2 separate regions of the Homo sapiens genome follow, and region 1 is linked to region 2. The links come from fine-mapping of genetic effects on gene expression. Tissue or cell type: whole blood. Region 2 holds a variant in brackets; the other region holds the start of a gene. All regions are shown on one strand. Distances are from middle to middle. Region 1 holds the start of CAMK4 (calcium/calmodulin dependent protein kinase IV). Region 2 overlaps CAMK4 (calcium/calmodulin dependent protein kinase IV).

The links.
Region 1: it holds the start of CAMK4, and the variant in region 2 is fine-mapped to the expression of CAMK4 in whole blood (TOPMed, PIP above 0.99).

What each region holds. Positions count from the first base shown.
Region 1 is chr5:111,223,071-111,225,979 of GRCh38, forward strand. CAMK4 (calcium/calmodulin dependent protein kinase IV) reads left to right here and starts at 1,314. Exons shown (of 11, transcript NM_001744.6): 1 at 1,314-1,574. The coding sequence starts at 1,414. RefSeq lists enhancers at 443-542, 1,503-1,552 and a silencer at 903-1,392.
Region 2 is chr5:111,261,446-111,264,354 of GRCh38, forward strand. The region is part of intron 1 of CAMK4 (calcium/calmodulin dependent protein kinase IV); the gene reads left to right. Among named protein-coding and RNA genes, the nearest start is that of CAMK4, 39 kb to the left of the region's middle. The variant C/T (reference allele first, on the strand shown) is at 1,688.

The DNA of each region.
Region 1 (2,909 bases), 38 kb before region 2:
AGGCAGGCTTTTAAGAATAATAAATCCATAAATTAGATTAAAATATTGGACCATATTAATGGTTGGTGCTATCAGGAATGGAGACTTACTAGGAAGAGTTTAGCGCATGTTGGAGGAAACTCAGGAAAAAAAAAAGGCCAAAAGTAACACCTGTGAAGTAAGGTGAAAGCGCCTGGAGCTATTTAGCCAGAAATGAGTTGTGGTATAATAACTGTCATAGATATGTATCAGAACATGACTAATTGTTGTTCGTCTTTGCTGAAATCTGAAAAGAAAAAAGTTCAAGGGTAGTTTAAGTGATGTATGTTTAATACTGAGAAGAAGAGCCATGACAGCTGATGGACAGGACATAAGAATGCTTATCATGGGATACATCTCTTGGGAAGAGAAAAAGGGCTTTTACATGTAGCAGTCTTCCCTGTCATGAATGAGGACAGGTCCTGCCTTAAGGCAGAGGGTTTACTAGTTGGCTTCCACAAGGCCCTTCTAGAACTGTAATTCTGAGCCACTTCAGATGCTGAGATTGAACTCGACACAGCCAAGTATCTCCTCTTTTAGGAGCTCCAGCAGTGCCGAGGAGGCAGTGCCACCAGCAGCGACGACAGCATTTATTCCAACTGAAGACTTCACTCAAAGGTGAGTCAGGTCAGTGTGGACCTGGGCGCTTCCTTTTCCTCCAGCTCTCACTGGGTCCAGGCACAGGAGCCCTGAGGGATCGGCGACCACAGTACTCCCTCCCCGGCCACCAATATAAGCTTTGACAGAGGATGGCTGGTTAGCTGGTGTTAGGTGGGAGGGACTCGCCACGGAGACGCGCTCAAGGAGGGATGAGTTGCGCCACCACCACCTAGGTCCCTCTCTCGCTATCCGGCGGGGCCGCCCGGACCCAGGTGCTGCCAGGGTACGCCTGGCGCCCGCCATCCCAGAGCAGCGTCCCGCTGCGCACGGTCTCCCTCCAGCTCCGGTCCCCGCGGGAGGGCGCGTGGGATGATGCGCGGGTCCTTGTGCCTTCCCCAAGCTCCAGCATCCGGAGCCGCCCTAGCCGGCACCGCGGCAGCCACAGCCTGGGAGAGAGAAAGGAAAGAGGGAGGGCGGCGGGAAAGGCTCGGCGCGGGAGGAGGGCGGGTGAGGAGGGAAGGAGCGAGGGGGAGGGAGCCTCTCTCCTCAGCGGTGCAGCTAGTCTCCCTCCAGCGGGCGGCGACTCCGGGTTCCCCCTCGCGCCCTCTCGCAGAGGCTCGCCCCCTTCCCCGCCCACCGTCCCTGCGAGCGCGGGCGGCGGCGGTGGGCGTGTGCGCGCGTGAAGGACGCCGCCTCTCTCTCGCTCCTGCGTTCGCAGGCGGCGGCTGGCGGCCGGCTTCTCGCTCGGGCAGCGGCGGCGGCGGCGGCGGCGGCTTCCGGAGTCCCGCTGCGAAGATGCTCAAAGTCACGGTGCCCTCCTGCTCCGCCTCGTCCTGCTCTTCGGTCACCGCCAGTGCGGCCCCGGGGACCGCGAGCCTCGTCCCGGATTACTGGATCGACGGCTCCAACAGGGATGCGCTGAGCGATTTCTTCGAGGTGGAGTCGGAGCTGGGACGGTAAGGCGCGGGCTCCGGCTGGGGAAGCCCGCGGCGTGCACTGGGGGTTGTCCCTCTCGCAGCGACGGCTCGGAGGGTGCGGGAGCCTGCCTTCGTGCCCTTCGATTTCTCCCTACCTAGTTAGTGTCTTGAGAGAGAGCTAACCTTCATTCAGGTGCGGCTCGAGTCCTTCCCACCCCACCAGAGCGCCTAGGCCGGTGCAGCTGTAGGATCAGCCCGACTCCCTCCCACCTTCCCTCCTTCTCGCAGGCTGCCACTTCCCTTGGGTGACAGCTCCCACCGCACGTGGGCCCTGCTTTCCCAATTGATATCTTTGCTCACGATTATAGCTTGCCAGAGGGTCCTGTTTGTCTAGTTATTGTTTAGGGTGGGGGCCGGAGGGTGCCCCTCCAAATCAAGACAGAATTATTAAGTTAGATTCCTCCTCCTTCCCCTCGTCAAGCTCTCCAAAGCAAGTGACACGAGAAATTAAACTTAAATACTAGCTTCCCTGCAGAGTCTGCTCAGGAGTGAAGGGAGAAATGAATCATTTAAGAGAGTTGAAGGCAGAATAATGAACTAGTGTGGCTTTAAAGAGAAAGCAGCATATGGGATCCAGGCAGTGGTAATTAGTGAGAATGCTGCTGCTTCCCTTCTTTCATGGGCTGGAGTGATTTATTTAAATTATATATGCAACAGACCATCTCCCTAGGATTGCAGATATGTCCCCTATCCCTCCTCTGAAGATCCAAACAGGTAGCAGTTTGGCCTTCTGCATGATTCCATATGCTTTCGTATTTGTATCCATTGAAAATTATAGTTTTCTTTCCCTTACTTCCTTTTTTTTTGTCTTTTCTCTCTGTTATCCATAGGTAAGGAGATTTATTTTCAACACTTATTTTAGATCCAGGCTCTTTAGTATAGGGAATCTGAAGATGTAATTTCAACGGTTGACAAGTTGCAGCTTCTGTACTTACTACTCCTTTGCAATTTCATTTTTCATTCTCTTTTTGCTGGAAATAGTATTGCTAACAGCCTTTTTATTTTTTCAAGTCATTGGAGGATCCAGAGCAGGATTCTGGATGTTGGTATTTAGTGGGAAGATGTAATGATCACTGCCCACTCTCCCCCCACTTTGCTAGTACTATTGAAGGCTCATTGAATATAGATGTGTAAAATAGGCAAACTTCTGAATGAAAATTCAGTGATTTGTCACTGTTAAAAATGTTTTGAAGTATTTGAGCACTGAATAATGTATACATAAACATCCATTTTTGATCAAGTTTTTCAGTATTCATCTGAAGATCTATTATATATATAGGTGGAAATGAAAGGACAATGATGTCGATTTTTGTA
Region 2 (2,909 bases):
TCCGGATCTCTGAGGTTTCGAGGATAGCCTCATGTAATCACAAACAACCATAGCAATAATTATCTTCAGTTTCCTCACCTCAATATCCTTATAGTTTCCTTCTCTGACCCTAATAGTTTTTTTTTTTTTTTCCAGGTCACCACAATGACTTTTTCTGCTTCCAAAGTTGGAAAAGAGCCATCTTTTTAAAAATTTTAGTGTCACGTTTATCATGCAAAAGTTGGAGAGAATGCCCTCCATCCCTACTTCTGTTGTATTCTCTAATGACTTATGCATTGATTACAAGCAGAATTTGCCTCTTACCCCTTCAGGTATGGGGCCCTGCCTATGACTCACTGTTCCTTACTGCTTCTCTCCCCTTGTGAACCAGTTTAGGCTCTCTGGGGCTGGGATATGTGCCAATCTGGGGACTATGATCTTCTTAAAAGTATTTTTTTTTCCTCTTTACATGCTTAGCCATTGTCCAGAGGCAAAACTTGTGCAGCAAGCCTTCTCTTTTCTTTGGGGTACACAGCCTGGGATATTAAGGAGAAGTCCTTATCTTTGAGAGTTTAATACTTTTGAGGTCTTAGGTCTGCAGAGTCATCCTTGTGTTCGTTCACTAGCACCTTACATGGGTTTCTGAGCCCCTCACTCTGCTGACATACCTTCACAGGCAGTAGAGACACAGTTTAAGGTCCTCATTCTGGCACTTGATGTGTAAAAGAAAAATTGCACTAGACTAGCTAAACGGGCAAAAAAAAAAAAAAAAGACATTCAAGAAAATTGCAATAGAGGAGAAGGATTGAACTCAACTCCACTAAACCAAAGGGGGAGGAGTTTCTAAGCACTGGGGTGAGCTGGTGGAAAATTGCGGGAGGATGTTAGTGGAGGGCTGATCAACATGATTGGGCCACTGGTGCTTATTGAAGTTAGGCTCCCACTCTCCTACAGAGGCTGAGAGGGTACTATCTTTCTTGATTACATGTCAAAAGGGATGGCTCCCAGGTTCTTGAGAAAGACATTCCTGGGTTGTAGAATATTTATGTCTTAAAGTAGCAGAGCAAGAATTTATAATGGAAAGTTTTCTAAAGGAAACACATTTTAAAAAGGAGGTCAGAGGCCTTAGGAAGAAGCCTGTCTAAAGTTGAATCAATCTGAGGGGGATTTTATGGCCATCTTTTCCAGATGCATAAATATAAACTAAAAAGTAAATAATGACCCACTTTACTTGCTTTCATGTGGCTTTTTATATTCCATCAATAACAATGAAATCGGTTATGCAATAGGGCAGTTGTTATTATTAAGGAAATTTATACATAGATTGTAATAATATGCTAAAATTGTGAACAATTTGTCTCCCAGGTTCTGTCCTTTTGAACAAAAACGGAAATACACTTCAAAATAAATGCTTTGCAATTACTACTTTTCTTTCTTCTGACTTACTATTTATTAAAGGTGAATGTATTTATCACACAGACAGATACTTTGGTTTGATTGGTTTGTATCATTGCTTTCTCTTTGTCATAGAAGTATCCCTTAGAGTGAGTCTTTTGGCAACATATAAAGTGATAATTTAACCCCCTGGCTGAGTTGTTTCTAATATAAGTGAATCATACTAAGCCAGAGGGCAGATAGCTGAAGAGAAAGGAAGTAGTAAGACAGCGAAAAGAGATCATAGTTCATGTCCCCATTTTTCTAAAGGGAA[C/T]ACTTTCAATGATAAATCTTGACTATGTCAGGTGATTTTCCTTTTTTCACTCTGTGGAAAGGTGTTTCATCAGTTTTCCATACCTATTATGTGAAATATATTTCATAAATACAGCTGGTGATCTTCAGGCAGTACTGGAACTTTTATGTTATATACATCATAATTATTGTTAATGGTAAAGTTGGATGGAATGAGGAAAATGAAGGAAAGATAGGAATTGGGTCAGGGCTCTGACTGAGTGGCCAGTGAAGGCTGTTAAGGGACAATAAATAATTTGAGCTCTTTGGGAAATACTGTTATTTACTTCTCTACTTTTATTTCCAGATTTCTTCACAACTCCATTTCTTTTCTGTTATTACTCCCACAGCAGTCTACTTCTTCCAAACCTTATCATCATTGCCATGTCCATTTCATCTCTACCCTAATCCAGTTCAACACCCTACATCTCAAATGGCCTATTGAAATAATCTCTTTATTGGACATCCTGCTATAATCCATTTTTAATATAAACTTTAAAAAATGTAAACCAGTCCAAATTGTTCTGATTGATAGCTGTATAACCCTCCCATAGCTTTCCAGTATGCTCAGAATAAATTCCAAACTCTTAACTGTGGCTCTCAAAACCCCCAAAATAGGCTCTAGACTCTGTAAAGGGCGGAAGCAGTGTGGATTCTGTACTTAGTGTATTCTGATAGCCACGTGTCACTATGTACTTTTTCTTTGTGTCTTCACGTCTCCTCCTGTTGCATTTTAAAGCACTTTCATAGTATGTGGTTTTGCCTAATAAAGCATTCTCATAGAAAAAAAAAGCCACCTCACCTCTTCCCATTCTTCCCCTGGTTTATGAGTTCCCAGGAACATTGTCCTTTCTGTCTTTTGAAACTGCCAAGCTTACTACTTTCCTAGGGCATTTGCCCTTATTGTTCTCTCTCCGTGGACAGTTTTGCTACCCAATTTTTGAATGACTGGCTCTCTTTTTTAAATGTAGTTTGGTGTGATGTTGACTTGGTTTGGTGGGAGTTGTGGGTGGAGTTGTGTTGTTGTCTGTGGTCCTGCTGCAAGATGGTGGCAGGTGTTGCACAGGTGCCTTGGGGATTGTCAGCTTTGTTGGTGTGATTTGCAGTTATCTTGGTGCAGCAGTGGCTCTGTTCCATGTGCAGTGGTTACCAGTCGCTCCAGGGGTTTGGTGTGCCGATGGTGATGTCAGCTGCCTGGGTGGTTG